Homo sapiens: one gene and its partner. The protein of the gene in region 1 purifies or fractionates together with the protein of each later gene. This does not show direct contact. Each region holds a gene or a part of one and is shown on either strand. Other genes may lie near its edges.

Region 1 (3,011 bases):
GGAAACATAAGCAAAATTGAAATGCATGGTCTTTCAGTGCAACCATACAATTTTTATTCACTTTGTAATAGAATGGACAAAAAAACTAAGGTTTATATATTAAACTAATAAAAAGGTACAGGGTAAATTATATACATATATGTATGAATGTATATATACTTAGATTAAGAAAAAAAAATGACTCACATTCCTGTAATATAAAGGTCCATTGCTAGTTGAAAAGTGACCTCTTTTCTCTGTACATAGTGAAGCCCGTATGTATGGAGTTTTAATCTGTACAGAAAGAAATGTATTATTCATTGGTCTTTCTGCTGCTGGAAAGATAATAGAATAGCTGATTCTTACAACAACTGTATGATCAGGGATGAGTTAGAGTATTTCTTTTGTCTTTGCTCAAAGCCATACATATATAAATATATATAAAGATTATTAATAAATTCAACAAAAAATAAACTACAATCATGAATATTTTATTTTATCAATATATGCTAATCAAATGTTTTATTTTATTAATGAGTACAGCTTTGCCTCTATTTTTACATCATAAAATTTCCAAGAGCTTATACTTGATAATCACATAAAATCAATTATATTCTATAATTCTGGAATGAGAGGACTTTAAATAGAACATGGATTTTTCAACCACTTCTTTGTTTACCTTTTTCGTATAGTAAAATATGAGCTTATTTTCTTTTTTGCTCTGTGCCTTTTTAGAATGTGGTTGTTCTCCAACTTCAAAACACAACCATTTTGTGTAATTATTGGATATACAGATGAGAAATAATTTTCCTGTAATAATGGTAAATAATTGTCCTGTAATATATTTATACAAACCTATTTTGTTATAATAGTTCTATGACATACCTATTTTGTTATAATAGTTTTATAACATACCTATTTTGTTATAATAGGGCCTTGGGCTCTATTATAACAAAACAGGTTTATATAAATACATTCATATTTATAGCCTTAAACAAAATAGGTTTGTATAGTAGGCCCAAGGCCCTATTATAACAAAATAGGTTTGTATAAATATATTCATATTTATAGCCTTGGGCCCTGCAAAGTTATTTGGAGAGTGATAGAACCTCCCCACACAAGTGGGTTTTAAATGATACCTAAAAGCCTGAGATAGAGTTTATCATAATGAGAATAAGTAGTGAAGCATTCCTGAAAACAAGGAGGATAAATAGTAGCAATGGCAATATATTCTATTCACCAAAAAAGTAGCTTGTCTCCAGGTCTGGATGACCTCTTCATAAGTGAACAATTCCCTGATGAATGCTGTTCCACTTTAAAGAGATGGTTATTTTGCAATTTATAAACTTAACTGAGCATACTATTTTCAGGACACTACAAAGTACATAGTCAAGTTATTACCGTCATTCCTATAGGACAGAGAATGATTTAAACAATATGACATGTTTAAAATTTTAGATGATTTATTTCAAATCCTGAATTATGTCTACTTCAAATTATGAGCAATCTCTATTATCTTTCAGGACTATTTAAAAAATCTCCATACCTCCTCTTTCAGCTTAGGTTTTTATATTTGTTAATTTTACTATGTTACTTTGCTTCTATGGCCCTCACTTGCACTGTTTATAATGTTAACCTGTTTGAATGAGATATCTCTCCATTATATCTTTATCTTTTTAGAACATGTGCCATAAAACCCATGTGGTTATTTTGTTCATATGCACTACAACTAGCAAACTTTTATTTTATGTTCACCTACTTTAAAAAGTACTCATACTGTACCATGGGAAAGAAACATGGGCCTTATAGAATGGAATGCTGAGCTATTTTGAGTCCTGAAAACAATGGCCAAAAATTTAAGGAACTGTGGTTGCTGCATGCACCAAATTGTAGCACATACAAATAAATAAAATACAGTTCTATAACTGTATTCAATATGGTTATTTTCAAGGAAAAATAGGATAGAAATTTTCTTTGAAAGATTTGCTATTGTACTTAGGGAAGTACACCTGCTATTACCCCTCAAAAGCAATGACTTTCTTAAGCAATTTCAATTTTTTTCCTTTTTAACAACCCTGCACTTGCACAACCCTGCATCTCTTGTCTCACCCTAATGCTGACCCTGCTTCCAATTCAGGCTTTGACAGGGACAAATGGAGATTTTAAGGTTTTTTAATGAGAGAAGCCTTGCTGACACTCCCCGCATCCCACCTTGAAAATTATTTAAAGATGATCTTAAAAGAACCTACAGATAATGCTCTGAATTTGTTTACAAGGTCCTTGATGTGGAGAGAATGAGTAATACATTAAATGCTGGGGAAATAATTATCATTTAGTGAAAAATTAAGCATGCTTTTCTAAAATGTGGATGTTTAACAGAGCACAGCTGATTGGGAACACTGGCAGTTCAATGCAGCTGGAGTGTCTCACAGGGTGAAGAGGAACCCAGATCAAGTGGGAAATAGGGATTTCAAAAACCTTCTGAAAGGCTTTTAACATCAGGGCAAAGGTTTTACAGTGTTGTACTTTATATTCTTAATTTAAGCTTATCAACGGGGAGGATTCACATTGAAATGTCTGTTTTGCTAATGTAACAAGGAATAAAATAATTTATGACACAGCAAAAACTGGGGGCTATTTACAACCCCACCCTGCCTTGTGAGGATGCTGGGTCCTAAGGAAGGTCCTAGGTTTGCTAAATAGAGTAATGGGAATAGGAAACTGAAAGTTTACTTGCTTTGCGTAAGATAATATATTGCGGCAGGGAAGGGGTACAAGAAGATAAGAGCTAGAACCTGTGAGAAGGGAAAGAAGTGATAAAATAATTTTGGCTAAAATAAAGCAAGTTCTCAGGCCAGGCGTGGTGGCTCATGCCTGTAATCCTAGCACTTTGGGAGGCCAAAGTGGGAGGAATGCTTGAGGCCAGGAATTGGAGACCAACCAGGGCAGCATGTCAAGACCTGGTCTCTACAAGGAAAAAAAATTTTTTTAATTGACCAGTATATACTTACATACCTGCAGTGTTTAGAAAA
Region 2 (2,399 bases), on another chromosome or scaffold:
TAAACAAGTATATGACTTTTATAAATGTTCTGTGTTCTTTTGCTGCTTGTTTTTGTGGGGCTAGTTTTCAGGAGGAACTGTAGAGCCCTTCATCTTCCAGGGCTTCCTCATATTCAGTCAGTTACTCTGGGGAGGGATCCCAGAACCATCTGGGATAAGACTGACCCTGCCTGGAGGAGAGGGAGGCAGTGTAACCTCTGACCACTGAACTGCACAGAGGTGGGTGCTCCAGGGGGATGTCACGTTGGCCAGCTGCTGTCACTGGCAAAGGGCATTCTGTTGCCCCTGGGAGTTGAGAATGACTGCATCAGTCAGATCCTAACGCAGTAGCAGGGAAGGCCAATGTGGGTCTTCTCCGAGTCTGATTGGGAGAGGAAGTGACACACTCGTTTCTTGGCGTCCAAAGTGAAAGCAGGTGGGGCCACTAGAATATGCAGTGCTGTTGCTTCATCAGGCACACTCAGGAGCGCCAGGGTAAATTCTGCAGGCTGCCCTGGTTGCCCCACAGATGCGATCCTCACTGGACTCAATGAGTAACGTCTGAGGTATGGGCATAACACAATTAAGGTGTTCTCAAAACTGGAAATCCAAAGCATCCGAGTGATGCTCTGAATCATGCGCCGTGTGGAAGGAATGTGCTGGCAGGCGCAGATCGCCGGCTGAGTGTTCCACTGAAATTAAACTCAAGTGCTGACTTCTCGTTTTTTACCTCCCCACCCCTTCCCTCAAGGTTGGTCTCCGCCAGCTGGACATGTCCTTGCTCTGCCAACTGTACAGCCTCTACGAGTCGATTCAGGAGTACAAGGGGGCATGCCAGGCAGCCTCCAGCCCAGACTGCACTTACGCTCTGGAGAACGGCTTCTTCGATGAAGAGGAGGAATATTTCCAGGAGCAGAACTCCCTGCACGACAGGAGGGACCGAGGCCCTCCTCGGGACTTGTCACTGCCTGTCTCCTCCCTCTCCAGCAGCGACTGGATTCTGGAGTCCATCTAGAGGGTCTTGGGAGGGATGTGACTGTTGGGAAGCCCTTCCTACTGGACACGCTGTCATCATTTGCTGCTTCTCTTGCAAGAAAGCACCTCCGTTGTGGACGGTCCTCGGGCACAGGGGATGAGCGCTACCAGTTTCATTTGTAGGCAGGGAGTTCTCCGCGGATGCATGGTGGCAGTCTGCTTTGATGGCAGCAGTTTCTGCTTAGGTGACCTAGAGGTCCTCAGCAGTATCCTCCACACCTATTTATTGAGGTGCACCTGCTGGGGATTCATAATGAGAATATAACAAGAGGATCTCGGTGAAAGGCCTTAGTGGGTGTTTTGTGTGAGGTGGCTTGTAGCTAGCTACTTCCTTACAGATGGTAGAGTATTCCAATCCTCTTTGTGTTAGGGTTCTTGCTTCCAGTTTGGGATGTATTAAAACCACCATTTCACTGCTTCCCTTCCTCAATATGCTCTGCAGCTTTTCTTGCTGTTTAAACCTCTCGCCTCAGCTTTATTTATTTGTAAGCTGCATTACTAACTGCCCAGTGATTCGGTGAAAGCTTTTTACTGAAAAAGTTAACATTTCTAGTCATCCCAATCAACTGGCTTTTTTCAACCAAAATTTTATATCATTCTTTGTCTATCAGATACGAGAGGAAGGAAGATAATACGAAGACATGTTGAATAGTGAAAAAAAAAAAAAGAACACAAAAACTGGGGCAAGCCAATGTGATGTATCACTCACTGTAAGATGGCAAATGTTTTCATTTTTAAGATTCCGAATGTAAACTAGTGTGCTAGAAAGCAAACCACCCGCCACTCAAACCAGTAATTACCTTAAGCCTTAATATATTTATTAAAATACTTTATGAGAACATTACACTTTGTAGGTTAAAAATGAGGATAAAATGCTAAACTATCTGTGTCATGTGTTATTTTATTCTGAATTTGGAATCATCAACTTTCATGACTTGAATGCATTGAGTCCAGTCAAATAATGAAAGAAAATTAGTTTGTTTTTCTGCCACTAAATGCATTTGAAACAAGATTGACTCTGTTGAGCTTAAGGAATCGTTTTAGCAAGAGTAGATCACCATTTACAGCTGGTTCTCAGTGCTCTTTTTTTTCTTTGAGACGGAGTCTAGCTCTGCTGCCTAGGCTGGAGTGCAGTGGCACGATCTTGGCTCCCTGCAACCTCTGCCTCTCTGGGTTTAAGCAATTCTCCCACCTCAGCCTTCCGAGTAGCTGGGATTACAGGCGCCTGCCACCACGCCCAGCTGATTTTTGTATTTTTAATGGAGATGGGGTTTCACTGTGTTGTCCTAGCTGGTCTTGAACTCCTGACCTCGTGATCCACCCGCCTCGGCCTCCCAAAGTGCTGGGATTACAAGTGTGAGCCACCATGCCTGGCTGCTCTTCTG

Evidence for each region.
Region 2: the proteins of HCN1 (region 1) and FAM89A purify together in Homo sapiens (co-immunoprecipitation; one large-scale study listed by IntAct). This does not show direct contact.

Annotation. Positions count from the first base shown.
Region 1 is NC_000005.10:45,256,695-45,259,705, reverse strand, and holds part of HCN1 (potassium/sodium hyperpolarization-activated cyclic nucleotide-gated channel 1), read left to right. Parts: 3' UTR 1-3,011. UniProt on the Homo sapiens protein: Hyperpolarization-activated ion channel that are permeable to sodium and potassium ions. Displays lower selectivity for K(+) over Na(+) ions.
Region 2 is NC_000001.11:231,018,458-231,020,856, reverse strand, and holds the end of FAM89A (protein FAM89A), read left to right. Parts: intron 1-730; coding exon 731-994; 3' UTR 995-1,899; downstream 1,900-2,399.